4 separate regions of the Homo sapiens genome follow, and regions 2, 3 and 4 are each linked to region 1. Evidence: fine-mapped expression QTL. A gene starts in region 1. Each other region holds a variant in brackets. All regions are shown on one strand. Distances are from middle to middle.

Region 1 (5,564 bases):
CTCACACCCCACATTTCCCTTCTGCATTGCCCTAGTAGAAGTTCTTCATGAGGGTCCCACCCCTGCAGCAAACTTCTGCCTGGACATACAAGCATTTCCATACATCCTCTGAAATCTAGACAGAGGTTCCCAAACCTCAATTCTTGACTTCTGTGCCCCTACAGGCTCCACACCACATGGAAGCTGCCAAGGCTTGGGGCTTGCACCCTTTGAAGTCACAGCCCAAGCTATTTCTTGGCCCCTTTTAGCCATGGCTTCAGTGGCCCGGGAAGAAGGGCACTAAGCCTTTAGGCTGCATACAGCAGAAGGGCCCTCGGCTTACCTCATGAAAACATTTTTTTCCCTCTTAGGTCTCCAGTCCTGTGATAGGAGGGGCTGCCTGGAAGGTCTCTGACATACTCTGGAGACATATTCCCCATTGTCTTGGAGATTAATGTCTTAGAGATTAACATTTGGCTCCTCGTTACTTCTGCAAATTTCTACAGTTGGCTTGAATTTCTCCTTAGAAAGTGGGTTTTGCTTTCCCAGCACATCATCTGGCTGCGAATGTTTCAAACTTTTATGCTCTGCTTCCCTTTTAAACATAAGTTCCAATTCCAAACCATATCTTTGCAAATACATAAAAATGAATGCTTTTAACAGCACCCAAATCACTTCTGGAATGCTTTGCTGCTTAGAAATTTCTTCTGCCAGATGCCCTAAATCATCTCTCTCAAGTTCAAAGTTCCACAGATCTCTAGGGCAGGGGCAAGATGCCACCACTCTCTTCACTAAAACGCAGCAACAGTCACTTTTATTCCACTTCCCAACAAGTTCCTATCTTCATTCGAGATGAGCAGCATTTAGTCAAAGCCATTCAACAAGTCTCTAGAAAGTTCCAGATTCTATTTTCCTATCTTTCTCTAAGCCCTAAGAACTGTTCCAACCTCTGCATTTTACCCAGTTCCAACATCGCTTCCACATTTTTGGAGATCTTTACAGCAGCACTCCATTACTCAGTATAAATTTACTGCATTAGTCATTTCTCACACTGCTAATAAAGACATACTCAAGGCTGGGTAATTATATAGAACAAAAAAGATATTTAATAGACTCACAGTTCCACATGGCTGGGGAGGCCTCAGAATCATAGCAAAAGGCAAAAGAGGAGCAAGGACACGTCTTACATGGGTGCAGGCAAGAGGGTATGAGCAGAGGAATTCCCTTTTATAAAACCATCGGATCTCATGAGACATTCATTATCAAGAGAACAGCATGGAAAAAAAACAGCACCCATGATTCAATTACATCCCACCAGATACCTCCCATAACACATGAGGATTATTACAATTCAAGGTGAGATTTGAGTAGGGAAACAGAGACAGACCATATCACCAGCCTTCATGTTTGTCTTTCCCTCTTGAATGTGAGACCAAAGGGGAAAGGACCATGATATGTTTTGACTGAACCTCTGGCACCTAGAGCAATGTCGTCCGTATATGTTTGCTAAATGAATGACTAGATGCACTGCTTGAGGATTCTAACAAAAGATAAACTTAGCTAAATAATCTGCAAATAATCATCCTTGATTATTTTTCTAACCTTAAACATTTGTATTAATTATAATAATATCACTCATTATTTGCTTACCATTTGCCAGGCTATGTTCCATGCATTTTCCACATTTTCTCTCACTTAATGCTCAAAACTGTGTAGGTACATACTATTAATAAAATTATTTCACATACAGAGGAACCAATGCATAGGGAAGTTCATTATCTTGCCAAGGAAGGGAAGTTTAAAATGCTAAGTTCGACATTCTCATTCCAGAGCCTATGCTCTGGGCCTCTACAATGCAATTTCCCTCAAAAATAAACCCTCCAGGATGGGTGGGTGGCTCATGCCTGTAATCCTAGCAATTTGGGAGACCAAGGTGGGCACATTGCTTGAGCCTGGGAGCTGAAGACAAGCCTAGGAAACACAAGGAGACCCTGTCTTTACAAGAGATACAAATATTAGCTGGCCATGGTGGCATGTGCCAGTAATTGCAGCTACTCGGGAGGCTGAGTTGGAAGAATCATCTGAGCCTGGGAAGTGGAGGCTGCAGTGAGCCAAGGTCAAATAACTGCATTCCGGCCTGCACGACAGAATGATACCCTGTATCAGAAAAAAAAAAAAACAGAAAGAAAAAAGCAATGTGAAAAGAAGGACATTAAATAAGAAAAGCTTTAATTCTGGTGAAAAATGTTTCTATTTCTTAAAGCAAAAATGTTTCACAGGGACATACATTACCCACAACTTTCCCAAGAGCTATGAGGTGGGGTCAGGGGAACAGTGGTTCACATACTCCAAAGGTTGTGTTACTTTTCTCCGTCAAGCTTTCTAATGATTGAGAAACTCTTCACTGTGTGAATTTAATTGTACACATACTTTTTCAATCCTGTCTTACTCTCCAAGCCCCATTCCCCTCCTACCCTGATCTATCCAAGGGCTGGTGAAGAAAATTTCCCATGGATACACTACCTGATGCAGGCTACAGTTCTGATTCTTTAATGGGAAGAAAAATAAAGACATGCATATGCATGCACAGTGAGTATTTCCCAATACATGTACAGGCCCTGCCAAAAAGGAAGGCGAAGCATACTTTCAGTTTCAGTCACACAAGAAGGGAGGAGAGAAAAGCCATGGCCGGTGAGTCTTTTACTGTTCCAAGAACAGGTCCCTGGGAAGAAAGAGTTTTGGAAGGGGCTGGCTCTTCTGGAAGCCATAATTAGCATCTGTGGAAGTTTACTTGAGTAGAAGCAAGGAAAAGGGGGGAGAGGGAGGAGAGAAGGAACTAGAAGATTCTTGCAGACTTTAGAAAGGAAAGGCAAGCCCAGAAAGGAACTGAGGCTTTAGGGGAAGCCTGATGTCATTTTGCAATCTTAATTAAACTCTTACTTACATGTTGAAAGTCTGACAGAGGGTACAGAATTGGCACAGGAGGAGTACTAGCAGCAGTGGTTCCTAAATGAAATGGGCTATTTCTGCTTCATTACTTTATTAACCAGAGTTAAATAAACATGCGACATAAGAGGATGATCTCTGCTTTCCAGGGACTGATGTGGAAATGGTAAACTCAGTCTTCAGGTCACTCCATGCACATGTATGGAGACTATTGAGGGAAACAAGTAGGACAGCAATACAGTAAGAAGAGGGATTACCCAACTGTGAGGAGGGGGACATTTCACTGATGAAATCTAAATGAGGTCACTTTCTGTTGATTACATGAGAGGAATATGAGGCTGTTTTCATGATGTGAGAAATCCTTGTGCTCTAAACAGACAAGGTCCTGAAGGAGAAGAGAAAGCTGTTTATCCGTTCCATGGGTGAAGGTACAATAAATGGCTTACTGGATGAATTATTACAGACAAGGGTGCTGAACAAGGAAGAGATGGAGAAAGTAAAACGTGAAAATGCTACAGTTATGGATAAGACCCGAGCTTTGATTGACTCCGTTATTCCGAAAGGGGCACAGGCATGCCAAATTTGCATCACATACATTTGTGAAGAAGACAGTTACCTGGCAGGGACGCTGGGACTCTCAGCAGGTAAGGGTCAGTGACTTACACTCAAGTTCACCTAGGGCCTGTCTTCGTGCCTAACATTTGATTTCTTTACTAGTCATGTTAATTGGAAGAAAACTTTCTTATTTCTGGCTTCAGGGCCATATTTCTGTAGCAGGGTCCCTATTGCATGTCCCTTGACTCTCCTTTGATTCTTTTCCTTAATCCTCAGTGGCACTCTTCTGATTAAAGCTCATTTCCTGTTCTGAGTATGTGGTAGCTCCTTTACTGAAGCTCTTGAGAACCATCTGAAAAGCTTCATGCTGTGTTTTCCAGTGTTCCTGGCAAGGCAAAATATTTACCTGTGGATTTATTTTTGCTGAGTGCAAGGGGTCTGTAGGCACTTATGTAGTTGTAAAGTCACATGAAGCTTTAAGGTTTATAATCAAATACTTTTTATAACTTTTCTCCAAAATTTTACCCTCCCAAAAGAATAAAATATATTTCAATGATGGCGATACACTCAGAGAACACATTGAACGTATAGAAAAGTGAAGATTTCTAATGGGCTCATTCCTCCAGTTGCCTCCTTGTATTTTCTTTGAGTAAGATCACCTGGTTGCCTGTTACCAGGCTGTGGGTCATGCTGTGAGGCCTGGAAATCCTCCACTTGCAACCCTCCTCAGGCCCAATACAGGGCTCAGGAACTGAGCTGGCCAAATCTCATGACCACTTGGACCTACCACGTGGTGAGGATGAGAGTTCTGGTGGATTCCCAGTCATTGATGTCTGTGGCACTTCCTAAAGCCACTTCAGAGGGAGATGTTCTTTGAAAGCAAAAGCCTTCTGTTCTAAGGGTTAGGGAAAGCTTATGCCTGTCTAAGCAGACATTGCAGATGTTTCTGTTTTCATCTATGTGTAATAAACACGTATTTTTCTACCAATGCCTCTTTCATTTTCTACCTCCCACCACTCTCTAAATTAAAGAACATCTTTAACATTATTTAATGTCAGTCAGTCAGTCAGTGTTATGGGAGAAATTTTTAGTGGGGAGTGTTTTACAGATTGGGGTAAAGTTTTCCAGAGATGATAAGTGACTACTTCAATACCCTTTATCTTTTCATAGATCAAACATCTGGAAATTACCTTAATATGCAAGACTCTCAAGGAGTACTTTCTTCCTTTCCAGGTAATGCTGTTTTTAAAGGAAGAGCATTCTTTGACCCACATCTTCCTTGACATTAATTTTGTAGGATCAAACGTGGGTAAATGGGCTATGGAGAATTCTCATAGATTGGTCATATAATTTTCTTTTTGTAATCTATTCTGCTTTTGTAGAAACTGTTTCCACAGCTTCATTATCCACATTTATATTAAAAATTCTGAATCTGTGTCTCAAATCCTGATTACCCAAATAAGTACCAAACTTCATTATTTAAGCCTACTGAAATATTCACTCCCATCTCCCAGAGACACCTTATTCTAAACTTTCCCAGAGCTGAAAATGCTATACTTCCACACCCTGCTTCTCTTCCGGTTTTGTGTAACTTGGTTATTGGTGCCACCGTCACCAGTTGTTCAAACCAGGAACTTGAAACTCATATGGGACCCTTCCTTCTCATGCACCTCTAACATTCAACCCATGGCCAAGTTTTATGCAGGCTTTTCTCAAATTTGGAACCATCTCTCTATTTCTACTTCTATTATTTTATTAAAGAACCCCTATTCCCATAGTGCACTCTTAAACTTATATCTGAAAGCAATGTAGAGGCTAGGAATGCAAATTATTTATCAAGTTCAGATATTACTCTACTGAATTTATTAAGGTTGGGTATCATGAATATTTTCTTAAATGTTTCACAGCATGGGATATTCAATATATAAAGAAATACTGTATTCTCTACTATGAAAAAATAGCTCAAAAATAACCTAACTACTTCTAGTTTTTTTCTATTGTTTTCACACTTCTTTATGAAGAAATCCAACATTTTATCCAACAAATGATTATTCTATAATTTTTTCCAATATATCTATTCTAAT
Region 2 (5,651 bases), 490 kb before region 1:
AGTGAACAGGCAACAAATAATTTTGATGATAGTAATGATGGTGATGATGATTATGGCTATGTGTGTGATGGTGATGTTGAGGTGTGCCATTTGAATAAACTAGCCCTGCATTTTTGTGTCTTTTAGGGAGCTATGGAAAGGGGAAATGGATCTAATATGTATTGAATTCTATTACTTTCCTGATTTTATTTCACTTAATTCATACAACCCATTTCCATTAGTAAAGAAGTTAAGGCTTAAACAGGGAAAAACCATGTGTCTAGTTCACACAGTTTCAAAGTATATGCACATTAGTTGCCAGACATTCTGTTTATAGGACTCTAAGATAAATTATCTTGGGTTATTCCTTTGATTATGATAACAGCTGCTTTGGGCAACTAAGGATGATAAATTTTTATACTTTATAATAAAAATTGTGAAAATATTGCCTCAGCCTAAGCTCTCACAAGGACCTGATCCAAACCCAAGAACATTTTAAACAAAAAAGGGTAATTCCTTTGCTTCTAGTTCTTGGAACTCTGCGGTGTAATGATAGGAACTTGAGGTTTGGAACAAGATAAATGAAGTGTTCCTGTTCTACTTTCCTTTTTAGAAAACACCTAAGTAAAACCATTCTTGAAAGGACACATGAACAAATTGAACCAGTCAGAGGGGAAAGATCAGGATGATGAAGTGACTCAGAAATCAGGTAATATTAAAAACAGTTGGAAGAAACAAGGAGAAAGTAGACTCAAAGAACAAAATAGTGGTTTACTTTAAATATTTGATATTCTGTTTTATGGAACTATGTTTCCCTATATGTCTAAAATAGGCAGAATTGGGACCATTGGTATAAAGCACACTGTATTTTTATAATATTTGTACAAATTTATGTTCTGCACAAGCTTCCTTTTGTATATGTACTAATTTGTGATGTATTTGTACAGTGTTTGGCCTCAATACAAGAAAATATTATCTAATAAAGAAAATTGTAATGAAAAGAGATAGTTTGTGAAAAACTGAGTTCCTAGTCTATGGAATTGATTTCAAAGGGAATATATTTTAATTCATGATATTGAAGATGCCTTCTAAACATGATAATCTATAAATATGGGCTAGTTTCTGGAGAATGTATGATATTCCCAGCAGCATCAACCTCATTTGCCTCTTCTACCATCTTATCCTGGATAGATTTAGTAATTATTTTGTGCACCTACTGGGAAAATACCAGTCTCTGCGTCTGTTATATGGCCACATGATACTGTAGAAAGATCATGAACTTGGAGTTAGACAGACTTGAGTTTCCAATCTTGAATTTTTCCACTTACTATTCTGAGGACATTATACAGTTTCCCCAGGCCTCAGCACTTTTTGTCTCCAAAATAGGAATACCATTTATTTGGTAGCAGGATTTAGTAAAGTGGTATGTGAAATGCCTACCACATGGCAGTAATCAACAAATAAAAACATCAGTACCATCTGATGAACAATATTGACATGGATGATTGCCAAGGAAAAATATTTACTTAATTTTTCAGTAAAGTTTTCATTAAAGCATAGCATATACACAAACATGCACTCAAAATATAATAGGTTGACTGGATACATTTTCTTAAAGTAAATAGTCTTTTTTCTTGAAACAAATACATTTTATCCTGCCTGCAGAGTATAATACCCAATTTAAGAGAGAAAATAAACACCCATTATTGAGCATGCAATATCAAAGCAGCTGAGTTTGATTGGAGTACACTATGTTTTTACATTATTTCAGTACGATACAAATACAAAATGGGCAAATTATATGTGAATATATTTATGAATTTTGGTCAGAGTAAACTTGTAACTAGCATCCAAATAGAAAATTACGCCAGAATCTCTCTTATACTTCCTCTTAGAATCTAACCACAAATTTATTCATGGTATGGCGGAGAGCAGATTTTTTTATATATATTCATTTTTTTGCATAGAAAGCAGTGCGTGTCCACCTAATTATGCATCAGAATTATCTGGAAGTTTTGCTAAACAGAGAAATCTAGAGGACCCCCCTCCAGACTCTCCAAACCAGAATCTCCAAACCAGTAGATCTGGAGTGGGCCCATCAATTTGCAATTCTAACAGGTTCTCAGGTAGTACTGATGCTGCTGGCCCAGGGACCACACTTTGAAGATCATTAGTCTGTAGCATTTCATTTCATGACTGCGCAACAGTTATTTATCCATTATTCTCATGATGGAAATTTAAGGTATTATGGATAATACAGACCTTATCATTTTTATACATGTGCTTGGATGGGTAGATACTTGAATAGATAAAGAAATAAAAATTACAGGGTTATGGTTTATGCATATATTTGTACATAATTCATATTGTGCAAAAGTTCAAGAGTGGTAATACTAACTTGTATTTTCACCTATAAAAGAGAGGCCTTGGTTATCTTCCAGAGTTTTTATAGTTTTAGGTTTTACATTTAAGTCTTTAATCCATCTTGAATATGTGGTATAAGGAAGGGTTCCAGTTTCAATCTTCTGCATATGGCTTGCCAGTTATCCCAGTACCATTTATTGAATAGGGAGTCCTTTCCTCATTGCTTGTTTTGCCAGCTTTGTCAAAGATCATACGG[A/C]TATTTGCCAATGTCCATGATGAACACAGATGCAAAAATCCTCAACAAAATACTAGCAAATTGAATTCAGCAGCACATCAAAAAGCTAATTCATCATGATCAAGTAGGCTTTATCTCAGGGAGGCTAGGTTGCTTCAACATATTAAAACCAATAAATGTGATTCATCACATAAGGGGAACTAAAAACAAAACCACATGATTATTTCAATGGATGCAGAAAAATCTTTTGATAAAGTTAAACACGTCTTCATATTAAAAACCCTCAACGCACTAGGCATTGAAGGAACACACTTTAAAATAGTAAGAGCCATCTATGAGGAACCCACAGCCAACATCATACTGAATGAGCAAAAGCATTAACCTTGAAAACTGGAATAATACAGGAATGCCCTCTCTCATCATTCTTGATCAACATAGTACTGGAAGTCCTAGCTAGAGTGATCAGGCAAGAGAAAGAAATAAAAGGCAGTCAAATAGGAAGACAGAAAGTCAAACTATCTATGTTTGTAGACCGTATGATTCTATATGTAGAAAACACCATATTCTCTGCTCAAAAGTTCCTTGATCTGATAAACAACTTCAGCAAAGTTACAGGATACAAAATCAATGAACAAAAATCCATAGCATTCCTATACACCAACAACATCCAAGCTGAGAGCCAAATCAGGAATGTGATCCCATTCATAATTGCCACAAAAATAATAAAATACCTAGAAATACAGATAATCAAGGAAGTGAAAGATTTCTACAATAAGAATTAAAAACAACACTGTTCAGAGAAACCAGAGATGATGCAAACAAATGGAAAAACATTCCATGCTCGTGGAGAGGAAGATTCAATATCATTAAAATGGCCATACTGCCCAAAGCAGTTTACAGAGTCAATGCTATTCCTATCAAACTACAATGACATTCTCTTTATAATTTGAAAAAAAACTATTCTAAAGTTTATATGAAACAAAAATAAGATAAAAGCTCAAATAACCAATGCAATCCTAAGCAAAAAGAACAAAGCTATAGGCATCACCTGGCTTCAGACTACACTACAAGACTACAGTAACCAAAACAGTATGGTACTAGTACAGAAACAGACACATAGACCAGTGGAGCAGAATAGAGAGCCCAGAAATAATGCCACATACCTTCAACCATCTGATCTTCGACAAAGTTTACAAAAACAAGCAATGGGGAAAGAACTCCCTGTTCAATAAATAGTGCTGGGATAACTGGCTAGTCATTTGCAGAAGATTGAAACTTGGCCCCTTCCTTACACAGTATACAAAAATCAACACAAGGTGGATTAAAGACTGAAATGTAAAATCTAAAACTATAAAAACCCTGAAGATAACCTAGGAAATACCATTTTGGACATATGACTGGTCAAAGATTTTATGATGAAGATGTCAAAAGCAATTACAACGAAAAATTGACAAATGGGTCCTAATTAAACTAAAGAGCTTCTGTTCAGCAAAATATCGACCAAGTAAACAGACAACCTACGTAATGGGAGAAAATACTTACAAACTATGTATCCTACAGAGGTCTAATGTTCAGCACCTTTAAGCAACTTAAACAAATTTATAAGCAAAAAACAACCAATCCCCTTACAAAGTGGGTAAAGGACATGAACAGACACTGTTCAAAAAAAGACATTTAGGTGGCTAACAATCATAGGAAAAAAAGGTCAACATCACTAATCATTAGAGAAATAAATGCAAATAAAATCCATGAGATACCATCTCACAGCAGTCGGAATGGCTATTATTAAAAAGTAAAAAAATAACAGATGCTGGTGAGGCTGCAGAGAAAAGAAAACATAACACTACTGGTGGGAATATAAATTAGTTCAGCCATTGTGGAAAGCAGTTTGGAGATTTCTGAAAGAACTTAAGATACAATTACCATTCAATGTAGCAATCTCATTACTGGATATATATCCAGTGGAATATAAGTCATTCTACCATAAAGACACTTGCACACATATGTTCATTGCAGCACTGTTCACAATAGTGAAGACATGGAATCTACCTAACTGCCCATCAGTGCTAGACTGCATAAAGAAACATATGCACCATTGAATACTACACAGCCATAAAAAATAATGAGATCACATCCTTTGCAGCAACATGGAGAGAATTGGAGGCCATTATCCTAAGTGAACTAACACAGGAACAGAAAACCAAATACTGCATGTTCTCACTTATAAGTGGAAGCTAATTATCTAGTACATGTGGACAAAAAGAAGAGAATATAGACACCAGGGCCCACAAGAGGGGGAAATTGGGAGGAAGGTGAGGATCCAAAAACTACCTATTGGGTAATATGCTTATTAATACCTATTGGGTAATATGCTTATTACTACCTGTTGGGTACTATGTTTATTGCCGGGGTTACAAAATAATCTGTACACCACATCCCCACAACATGCAATTTACCCATATAACAAATCTGCACATGTGCCCTGAAGCTCAAGATAAAAGTAAAAAAAAAAAAAGGGCTAATGTTTAACAGCAACAACAACAAAAAAAAGGCTAGATGCTTTACATATGTAATAACTTTTTCATTTTTTAAAGAAATGGCACTAAATATGTAATGGTGTCTCATTGTGATTTTAACTTGCATTTTTCTGATAACTAAATATTGAACATATCTTCACATGCTTCATTTGAATATTCTCTTTTGAAGTACATTTTCAAGACATTTATTCAATTTTTTCCTGATTTACATTTTTTCCTGCTAGATTGCCCCATATAGACAGTCCCTATTTCCAGAAAATAGACCAAAAACTCCTATAAATTATATTAATGATTATATGTATAATTATATATTATATTAATATTTATATATAATTATATATTATATTAATAACTTATGGAGGTTTAGTCTATTTTATATTATATACAATTATATAGATTATATTAATATATGGGAGTTTTTGGTCTATTTTCTGGATATAGGGACTGTCTGTATGGGGTATCTAGCAGATGAGGACAGCAAATGGTATCACAGATATGTTCATTGTCCAGAGAAAGAGAATAAGCACCAGAATTGG
Region 3 (5,651 bases), 120 kb before region 1:
TTCTCTCTCAAAGAGTGATGGATATCATGAAACCAGATTTAGAATTTGAGTCATGCTACCCTCAGCACCACGTGATTTATCAGTGTCCACTCCCAATCCAGGATGCCACACTGCCCCTTGTTGTCATATCTCAGTCTTTGGTCTGTGACAGTTTTTCTGTATCTCCTTGATTTTTATGACCTTGACATTTTAGAAGAGGATTTTTGTAGAATGTCTCTCATCAAAGTTTGTCTGATGCTTCCTCATATTTAGATTGTGAATTTTGAGGAAAGAGAACACAAAGGAGAAGTGTGCTGAGAAAGGACTAATTACATATACTATTTGTGTTTTTCTAAAAGGGGCATTGAACTTTTCTGTCATTTATTTATTTATTCAATCGTTCCTTTACAAAGCCATGCATCACTTAATGACAGGGATATGTTTGAGAAATGTGTCATTAGGCAATTTCATTATTGTGCAAGTATTATGGAGTGCATAGCCTACTACACACCTACATTGTACAGTATCGCCTATTGCTCCTAGGCCATAAACCTGTATAGCATGTTACTGTATTGAATGCTGCAGTTAACTATAACACAATGGTAAGTGTTTGTGTATCTAAACATATAAAACGTACAGTAAAACATGGTATAAAAGATAAAAAATGGTACATCTTTACAGGGTACTTACGATAAATGAACTTTTCAGGACGGGAAGTTGCTCTGTGTGAGTCAGTGAGAGAATGAGTAATGAGTGAATGTGAAGTCCTAGGACATTACCGTAAACTACTACAAACTTTATAAACATACACTTAGACAATACCAAATTTATTAAAAAATACTTTTCTGTCTTTGTAATATATTTATCTTGGCTTACTGTATCGAGACATGCTGGTCTCGAATTCCTGGCTTCAGGTGATCCACCTGACTTGGCCTCCCAGAGTGTTGGGATTACAGGTGTGAGCCACCGCGCCTGGCCTGAAAGTTACTTCTAAAATTGTGATTAGATTCAGGCTAATTTTATTTTGCAAGACTACTTCTTAGGTGATGCTGATTACTTCATACTGTAGAATACTAGAAGGTACATAACACCTGAAATGTCTCAGCTTTAATGATACAAGAAATAATCTGTGGGTTCAGCTTGATCCTTTCTTTATAAAGGTCCTGGTCAACCTTTACTAATGATTTTACCACTCACTGATTGCCATTGTCATGATCATATCTGTCATTACAACCTGTGAGATTATAGTTTTTTTCTAATTTTTTATCCATTTATTAATTAACTAGACTTCTTAATACAAGAATTTTTCCCTTATGTACTAGCTCCTAATTTTGTTAGCCTGAAACACAATTCACATGAGAAGATCAAGATAAAGACTTAATCATTTCACTTTAATTATCAAATTCAGAAATATAATTCACATGAAAAGATCGAGATAAAGACTTAATTATTTCACTTTAATTATCAATTAATTGGTGCCCTGGCAACTTTTACTGGTTCTCAAGAGTTTTGTTTTGTTTCTCATACTCTCTAAGAAACTTAGTTCATACTCACTGCTTTTAATATACCCTATGTGTTTTAATAATCATTTAAAGACATTCTTTCTGAAGTTAAAATTTCCCCATCTTGCTCAGTGGAAGTCCTTCACTTTGGCTCTTTTGCCTCTATAGCATGACCCATGAGAGCTTCCTTGCTTTCTGGTTCAAGAAAACATTCTACCTTTATGTCATAAATTTTCTGACCCCTGCCTTGGATCAGCTACTTCTCCAAGAAGCCCTTACCTTCTTTAGTGGTAAATAGTTTTTAGAAATTATATTGGAAACTAGAGGTGATTATTGCTACTAGACTGTTATAACTCTAGGCCTTTTTCACAAAGATAGGAAATATATATTTTGTTAAAACTGGAGGTATTATGAATTTGCAATTGTATTTTCGCATCGTATTTAAGATTCCAACACTATTACTTACTATATTTGAATTTATGTAGGCAGTTCTTTTCTTCCATGCTGAAAATAATGATGACAATAATCATAACATAATTACATACTTTTAAACTTATAATCCACTCTAAAATGGGCTCAAAGTCACCTTATTCTATCACATATTGCAATTTCCTTATGTCTTCATTTTTCAGATTTGAAAATTGTATATTCTGTAGTTTGCCAAAAATTATTTAAAATTGACATCCAAAAATAAAAGAAAATGTTCTAGATATGATTTAGGTAGTCCCAGAATTAGTGAAATGGTGTTTTCCCTTTAATTGTTTTATAGAATACATAGCATCACCAACTCAGTGAGAACTTTCTTATGGAAATTCTGCTGCCCCAAGTGCCTTGTTTCTCAACATTACCTCCATGGTAGGCAGAATAATGGACTCTCAGACCTGTCCATGTCCTAATTACCTGCACCTGTGAATACATTACCTTACATGGCAAAAGAAACTGCAGATATGATGAAATCTCTTGAGATAGAGAGAATACCCTGCATCATCCAGATGCACTGAATTTAATCCCAACAGTCTTTATAAGGGAAGGATGGCAGCAAAAGAGTAAAGAAGAAGATGTGAAAACAGAAGCATAGATCAGGATGACACAGAGCCATGAGCTAAAAAATTTGGGTAGCCTCTAAAAACCAGGAAATGTAAGAGAAAGAATTGTCCCCTAGAGCCTCCAGAAGTAACACAGCCCTGCCAACACCTTCATATGAGCCCAGTGAAACCCATTTCAGACTCTGACTTCCAAAACTATAAGCTAATAAATTTGTGTTGTGTCAAGTCACTACATTTGTGATAATGTGTTATAAAAGCAGTAGTAAATTAACCCACCTGTCCACATATGTGTTCTTCATGGTATGCATTATGACTTGCAAGTATTTTATTTATTGGTCTGTGGACTTATTAAGTCCCTCTTCTCTACTGGAATGTAAGCTTTATGAAGTCAAGACTCTATGTTCTTATTGACTT[A/G]TACTATTCTCACTGAGTATAATATGTAATTAGTAGTGTCAAAATAAATATTTTTGAGTGAATTAAGATGTATACAATCTAAAATTGTTCTGGTCCACATTAAACTTATGAAAGAATGAAATAACCTGAGGCTTTTGTTCTCTGAAATAAGCTATTGCCAGACCTGTTCATCTAGTAGAGGAGCAATGGATTACATGCATTACCTCCCAGCCATGCAGACTTTAATTTTGTAACTTCAATTGTGGTTTAATTACTAACTCACATGGCCACATTCTCTATTAGTCAGCAAAAGTCCTTATGGACAAGGTTAATACTGTATTTTTGTTTTACTAATAAATCCTTATATTCTAATTCAGTTACCTGATATTTATTAGATACTCAATAAATAAGTATTTAATGGATGAAAATAAATGAAGAAATGTGTTATGATTAACTCAGTAATTCATATTCTTTGACATTTATCTCCATTTAATTTCACATTTTAAACTGATTGTCCTATATTATCAAATATTTTTCTAAATTAATTTTCATTTATACATTTGCTGTATTTGATATATATTCTTCCTTTCACTCTAAATCATTTATATTTTACAATATATACTGATGACATTTGTTTAATGTGATGTGACCATTGTTTTAGGTGATGTGGGTATTGAAGCAAAGAAGATGGACAAGTTGTTATTTCTAGAAGCCCATTTTGTAGAACTAGATAGATAACAAATAAATAAATGAAAGAAAGTATCAGTTAGTGATAAGTGCCTTGTAAAGAAACCAATTTATCTAGATAATTTTGTTTTTATGGTTTGCATTCCGATTTCTGTGCTTTCAATTTTTATGCCATTCTATAGGCATGAAATGTCTTTCCGTCTCTTGTATTTGCACATGAAATAGCTTGGGTTTTGCAATTGGAAGAGTGAACTTAAGTTTGATATCCACTGGAGATTAACAATGTGACCTCATGCAGGAGTTTTAATGTGGGTGAGGCCAGTTTGCCATCTGTAAAATGGGAATATAGCACTAACATCTTCTTCACTGTGGTGCTGAGTGAACAATGCCCATTGTACATAAAGCACTCACCACAATGCCTGGCACACAGTAGGCTCTCCTTAAATATAGTCCCCTTTGTTCTTCATTTGTGTGTTCAAAACCCTGTCATTCTTTAAATCCCTGAGCACTTTTAAATCCATGTTTTTCTAAAGTCCATTTATAGCACTCTTAGCTTGTCTTGCCCTTTAGAGGATTTTCGACTTCTCTTTTGTTGTCATATATTTTCCCCTGTGTTTATGCTTTTGTCCTTCAGTCTACACTTAGCGTTTTGAAAGCAGACCTCCCTCTCCCGTCAATATTACCTTTCTTGTCTTCTCAGAAGACTTGGCGCAATGCTCACAAGAAAGATGGCTTGTGATACTAGAGAGAGCTGGCCTAGGGATGAGAAAAACTGGACTCTCATTCTGATTCATCTCATCTCTTGGCAAGTATGCAGGCTCATTATTCATGAGGTGAAGAAGCTATTACTTGCCTTTGCTATCTAGCTCACTTGTGAGGGTGCAGTATAAAAAATACAAAAGGAAACATGTGGCACAGAACCTGTTTTCAGGGCTGTATAAGATAATAACACTAAGCTAACGCTAACGATCAATAGACTGTATCAAGCTCTAGTAAGAGTTTAATTTGCCGGACACCTGTCATCTTTTCTACAACCAGGTTCTGAGAGACGGTCTGGAATAATGATGAAGAACCAGATTCTGCAGCTGGGCCACCTGGATTTGAATTCTGGCTCTGCCACTTCCTTGCTTTGTGACATTGGGAAGGTGTTCAAGCTCTGTGCTTCATTTTTCTTATCTGTAAAATGAGATTAATAATATTATCCACATCATACAAGTATCATATGTATTAAATGGGTAAAAAATTGAAATATATATATACATAGCACTATATATAAAAGACCAATTCCCCAAATCATCTTATTTAAGGTAATATAATTTTTAAAAGGAGATAGTATAGTAGAGAGTAGAGTATTTCAAGTGGTGTTCAAGGCCTGGGCAGAGCAGACAGAATTTCTAAAATGCTCAAGCAAAACCTTATTCTTATTTAATATATTATTTATTTAATTATTTTGTCTAGACATGTAGACATATTTAATATTTAGCCCCAATGTGCCTTAGCAAATGTAGTCTCTGTCCATGACTGCTATGGGAAATGGACCAGTCAATGTTAACTGAGGTAAAGCATCCTCAGTGTTACCTACTGGCTGGTCTGTTATCAGAAAAGGGCATCTGTAGGAAGGTATAGAAGAATCTTCAGCACAAATGTGGGTTCAGTTGCTACTGTATCACTTTGCAGCTGTTCTGCCTTGAGTAAATTTTGAAGATCAAATAAAATAATATTTTCTAGGAAACATGACATAGTATCAAATATAAAATAATAGTTTTGCCTTCTGAATTACAGAACTATGATTCTAGAGCCCTATTCCTTCACCCGTGATGCTACAACCTTTGCATGTGTCTTTTATAATAATCTAAGCCCATCATGTTACTCTTTTTATATGGACAAAGAAATTTGAGCCTTTATTTTTCCTACTTGATTTAATTTGTTATTTACAATCTTCGACTTTTTTTTAAAAAAAGGATAAAGCATTTATTATTTTCTTTATTTAGGATTTATTATTTCCTTTATTCAAAAATAACATTTTCTGGAGAAGTGCACATGG
Region 4 (5,651 bases), 150 kb before region 1:
GTTTCACCATCTTGGCCAGGGTGGTCTTGAATTCCTGACCTCCTGATCCACCCACCTCAGCCTCCCAAAGTGTTGGGATTACAGGCATGAGCCACCGCTCCTGGCCCTTGTGCATATTCTTAATTGCTTCCAGCTATAGCCAAGCTGATTCTGGATGAACCTGCACATAGAATTAGAAGAAAAATAAGAACTCCAAGTTTATTAACTTAAGAAAATGTAATCTGTATATATATTTTGTCAAGCTCATACTAAACTTTGCAATCATTTCTACTTTCTTGAAAGCAGCTGATGGACCAAAGAGTATCTCAAGCATTATTTATCACCATCTCATTTTTTGTAGCATTAATGGTGTTCTGTTTCCTTTCCAAGCAGAAATATATGAAGTGACTTGCTTTACTGTATGGAGAACCCATGCATCATTCATAAATGGTCTTTTACATTTAACGTAGCACAATAGGTTTTCAACAATTTTCCATTTTGAATTGGTATATATCAAGTGGGTTCAAAGATGATGCTGCAATGTCCACATTTTAAATTATAGAAGCCCTCTCAACCTCTAGTCTCTTTCATTGTGTGGTATTTTATTTAATTCTGGTGTGGTGGTGGTGGTGGTAGTGTGTGTGTGTGTGTGTGTGTGTGTTAGGGAAAGGAACCTTCAAAAATAGGAACTGCTTCAGATGGATATGGGCAGAAAAAAATCATTAGTATATAGCAGTTTCCATATTCTCTTGTTTTTTTTTTACTTCGTAACTGTCACTAAAGAAGGAATATACATACTGTTAGTTTCCTACTGCTCTCTTAACAAATAGCAATAAACTTGATAGCTTAAAACAACAGAAATTTATTATATTACAGTTCTCAAGGCCAGAAGTCCAAAATCAAGGTGTCAGCAAAGTCATGCTCCCTTTGAAGGCTGTAGGGTAGAATCCTTCCTTACCTCTTCCACATTCTGATGGCTTCAGCCTTTTCAACTTGCGCCTGTGTAACTTCAATCATTGTACCCTTCTTCACATGGGATTCTTCTCTTCTGCTTCATATCTTCTCCTCCTCTGAATTATTCCATCTCAAAATCTTTAGCTTAATTATATCTGCAAAGAAGATTTTTTCTAAACAAGGTCACATTTACATTTTTCAGGGATTAGAATATGAACATACCTTTTGAGGAGGGCCATCATTCAATCCGCTGCTAATCAGGCCAAAAGCACAAGCATATAGCTAGAGGAAAATCTTATCTACTTCTCTGCATCTGGCAACCAAGTTCCTGATTCGTTTCCTTACATGGATAATTCCAATTAGATAAGAAAATCTCAATTAAAAAATATAGTCGACTGCTGCTTACCTTCTTTTTTTCTGAGGCACACAGTGTCTTGATCCTTCTACTTTCTAAATACATCTCTTTGTATCTTTCATGGCTCTCTTTTTGCTTCATTCTTTCCATTTATTTTTCTCATTTTTTCTATCTTTGGTGTATAGACCTTGACTTTACTGTAGCTAGAAGGAAAAGGAAAAATGTTTCGGTTGCATGTATATTATCCACTGCTTCAAATCCAAATCACACTGTAACCAGTTTTTTTAAGCAGGGATAGGGGTTGAGAATGTGCTGTTATGTATGTGCACAGTGAGGCCAAGTAAAAAAATTGAGACTACTAGAGAAATAAATTGACAGACAATAAAATAAGTAAAATGATTTACAACTTATTTGAAAAATATGTGATGAGCTAAAAGGACAGATTTGTGTCAGAGAGAAATTATGTGAATCCTAGAACTGGAGAATAGGGAGAAATGATTGCAAGGAGAATAAAATCAGGATAAATCACTTGACAATACCCTTCCAAAATTATCTGAAGAATTGAGAACTTCACTAATTAATAAGTTTCTACCTTAACTGCTAAATTTATATGTAAATATTTTTCCATTTTCACAAGCATTTATTGAGTGCCTACTGTGCACTAGATACTTTTTAGTGTATTGATTCTGGTATAAATTCAGAAATGCTATTGTGTTGGATCCTAGGTATGCGTGTGGTAACCAAAGTCTGCAAACTCTGTTCCCTGGTTTACACAATAGAGAAAATATAGCATATGATAGAAAAACAAATGTAAACAAGTAAAACAAATAGGCAAACAAGGAATTTTCAACTGAGTTTTGTAAAAGTCAAATTATACTCAATGGACACTATATTTGAATGGTTTAAGATGTTTGGAAATTAGTTAAATGTCAGAACAGTTTTTGTGCACAGGGTGATTTTAATAAAGATTAGAAAACTGTAATAATGCTGCTGAGGATCAATAAATAGACCTTAATATTAGAAAATAATATGGTTGTATTCTCATACTGAAGTATGGAAGAAGAATGTTATGATTAGTATAGACATTTTTTCTTGCCATGGATGTTATGTAAAAACAATTTTTAGAATTTATTGAAGCTATAACAATAGAAAGTATTTCTAAAAAGTTCTTATTCACATTCTAAATTTTCATTAGAGTCATAGGAAGCTTCAGCATAAACCTTAAGATTTTACATTTCAGCTCAAGTAATATGCACATAAAATTTGACATTTTCCAAAGAAGAGGAAAATTTCAGATCAAACGTTGATACATACTTTTTTTCATCATTGCTTTTCTCCATTCCTTAAATTCTTATTCTGGTTTAACGTCATGACAATCTCTCATTTCACTGACATTTCATAAAAAGAACACAAGGATTTTCTAATAAAGGCTTTAGAGATCTCTAATTCTTCTTTGGAAATTGGGCACTTACTTTCTGTGCATTTAAATCACTTCTAAGATAATTATCTCTCCTAGTCTCTACAAACATAAATATAACTGTTCTGCTTTCTAAGTCATGGTTTTCTTTAAGTATACTTGCTATATCTTCACTTTCTGTGCATGAATATCAGATTAGGTCTCATCAAAAGCGATCTTTGTTTGAAAAGTAATTTCAAAGCCAACTAGCATCATAACAACACATTTTAGCTTGCACCTTTCCGTCCTGCTCAGAAAACACAAGGTGATGTTTGTCACTTATATTTAGAGTCAAGTGATCTCCAAGAAGCATACTGGATAAGTTCACATAATGCCAGGTTCCTGACAAGAGTTTCTTGTTGGTTGGCTTCAGTAGCTCT[T/C]GCTCAAGAATTGCAGAAGTACATGTTTCTGTAACACATACTTCCTCAATAACCCTATTAGGTAATCTTAATATCATTTCCCTGTACTCTGGGAGGCTGTGTTTTTGCTAAAAAATCCCTTTGCTTTTTAACTTGAAAAAATAATCAGAATTTATTGACTCTGTGAATATCTTTGAATAGACCACCAAATGATAATAAATCAATAAACAGAAGCACAATCTGTATTTTTGGAAACATGTTTATATCTTAAAATAGGCTAAAAATATTGTAATATTTTAAAAATTTATATATGGCTCATCAGAAGCTCATTATTGCTCATTGTCTGCTAGAGAATATACTTCTTTAGTTCTTTGTAGGATTCAGAGCTATTTCTGGATCTCAGTTATAAGGCACCGGCTGAATCATTCACATTGTCTCTGAAACTTGGGTTGGCTCAAGGCCAAGTTGTTCAGAAGACTTTCTGCTAATCGTATTTTAGTCTTGTCTTTGTAAAAGGCTATGAATTATCTTAATAGAATATCTGTTAAGCAATAGTTTAGTGAGACCTTAGCTTTCACTTTAATAACCCATTGAAAGGAAATATAAGTGTAAAAAAGCAGTCTTTATGAGTGGTTTAGATCATAGACTCTGGACTCAGACAATCCTGATTTCTTTTTTTTTTTTTTTTTTTTTTTTTTGAGACGGAGTCTCGCTCTGTCGCCCAGGCTGGAGTGCAGTGGCGGGATCTCGGCTCACTGCAAGCTCCGCCTCCCGGGTTCACGCCATTCTCCTGCTTCAGCCTCCGGAGTAGCTGGGACTACAGGCGCCCGCCACTACGCCCGGCTCATTTTTTGTATTTTTAGTAGAGACGGGGTTTCACCGTTTTAGCCGGGATGGTCTCGATCTCCTGACCTCGTGATCCGCCCGCCTCGGCCTCCCAAAGTGCTGGGATTACAGGCGTGAGCCACCGCGCCCGGCCGACAATCCTGATTTCTAATTCTCACTCTAGCAATTGGTGGTTATTCAACTTTAATAAACCTGCACAACCTTGCTCACAGATTAATTTTTCCATTTCTACAATGAAGACATGATATCTCATACTCTCACAGTATTATTTTGGCCATGAAACAAGCTCATACTAAAATGCTTAACACATCGTACACATAAATATTAACTAATATTAAAATCTAGTTTATTCAAGAAGAATATTTTGAGAGGAGTTTGCTTTAGTCCTTGACATGACTTTCTGTACACTTCCAGGCAATCAGTAATAATAGATAGATAAATGAAGAAACTAAAGCACAATTATTCAAAAGAGATAAACACAGAACTCCTCTTTGATTAGAAGGATCTTGCCCGCACCTAGAGTAGAAACTTACTTCTTCAGAATAGTTTGTCACAACTATTATCTTGTATTTTTATCATAGATCTTATTTATTTGACTTTTAAAACAAGCATACTTTTAAAATATGTTAGAAGGGGAACAAAACTAGCAGAGCTGGGTGATATGAAAGTGACCTTAAGAGCTAATTGTTTAAAATTTTGCAAGAAAATACATATTATTTTGCAAATATTCCCTGGAATGTGCACTTGACCTATCTTTTCTTCAAACGAAGTTATTCTGGACAGACTGCTAGCATATGATAAATGTGTACTATGAGTAAGTTACTATTGTAGGACTAGCTGAACAAAGACAGAGGACTTTTTTAAAAAAGCAATCAGCTGTTTCTGGGATGTTTCACGGTCCCAAACTGGAAACATCAATTAATATGTTAAAGAGCTAATCTTTATTTCTACTTCTACATAAGTACAGGAGCAATATATCTCTGGAAGTATATAAACCATTTCTCAATAATACATAATTTTATTTTGTTCATATATTTGTGTCCTTCACACTTTGTGAAATTTACCAGCGAATGCATTATCATTCATTTTAATAAGTTTATTCCGCAATTTCAGGGGAACACAGGGCAGCTCTAGTTCTCAATACATAAAAGGAAAGCAAGTGGCCCGCTGGCTGAAAGGTAGCTATGTAAATATTAGCAAGCAGAGTTTAAATGCTTGGCATTTATCCAATTGACCAGAGGATTCTATATCTACACCATTAGAATAATCTTTAGAAGTCATAAGAGGAATCCCCCAAAGTGTCATATCCCTTCCTTTAAAAATACCATGCATGTCACTGAGTGTACCATATGGTATTTATATCACTTTTTAGTTTTATTAGTTTAATCTGAACAGAAAAATATTCTTATGTATATGGGTGCAGCAAATGGTTGAAATGATAGAACTGTGTCTAAGGCAAAGTTATTTTAAAAAAAACATACTTGTAAGCCTGTGCAACCAGATAGAACATTTTATGGCTAAAAGCTTAAAAATATATTTCAGATAGAGAGATCAGTAGAGAGACAAAATATTGATCAGATATCCAGATTATACTAGAAAATTTTATTTATATGCAGAGCTAATTTCCATTCCGTTACAATTAATATTGTTTTAGACATGTATGAAAATAATATATTAATAAATATTTATTAACGTATGCTGG

Which allele goes with the higher level. Positions count from the first base shown, and alleles are read on the strand shown. Sizes are in standard deviations (SD) of each study's normalised expression. Not every link is listed here.
For the expression in pancreas of the gene that starts at base 2,633 in region 1, C is the high allele of the variant in region 2 and A is the other (small effect, 0.38 SD a copy in GTEx).

Evidence for each region. PIP is the estimated chance that this variant, and not a neighbour inherited with it, causes the effect. A credible set is the group of variants that fine-mapping cannot tell apart.
Region 2: its variant is the best candidate, but not a certain one, in a credible set for the expression of CASP1 in pancreas (GTEx, PIP 0.55).
Region 3: its variant is the best candidate, but not a certain one, in a credible set for the expression of CASP1 in whole blood (TOPMed, PIP 0.82).
Region 4: its variant is the best candidate, but not a certain one, in a credible set for the expression of CASP1 in whole blood (TOPMed, PIP 0.89).

Annotation. Positions count from the first base shown.
Region 1 is chr11:105,032,213-105,037,776 of GRCh38, reverse strand. It overlaps CASP1 (caspase 1), which reads left to right and starts at 2,633. Exons shown (of 9, transcript NM_001257118.3): 1 at 2,633-2,670; 2 at 3,303-3,569; 3 at 4,651-4,713. The coding sequence starts at 2,664. LOC124902742 (a long non-coding RNA gene) reads right to left here. Exons shown (of 3, transcript XR_007062869.1): 3 at 2,096-2,136. RefSeq lists an enhancer at 2,505-2,554.
Region 2 is chr11:105,526,639-105,532,289 of GRCh38, reverse strand. It overlaps a transcript of LOC105369468 not described here. Among named protein-coding and RNA genes, the nearest start is that of GRIA4, 81 kb to the left of the region's middle. The variant A/C (reference allele first, on the strand shown) is at 2,600.
Region 3 is chr11:105,147,192-105,152,842 of GRCh38, reverse strand. No RefSeq gene overlaps it. Among named protein-coding and RNA genes, the nearest start is that of CARD18, 10 kb to the right of the region's middle. The variant A/G (reference allele first, on the strand shown) is at 2,942.
Region 4 is chr11:105,179,210-105,184,860 of GRCh38, reverse strand. The region is part of intron 4 of LOC105369468 (a long non-coding RNA gene); the gene reads left to right. It overlaps LOC105369469 (a long non-coding RNA gene), which reads right to left. Exons shown (of 5, transcript XR_007062872.1): 3 at 1,340-1,491; 4 at 938-1,088; 5 at 51-160. Among named protein-coding and RNA genes, the nearest start is that of CARD18, 42 kb to the right of the region's middle. The variant T/C (reference allele first, on the strand shown) is at 3,125.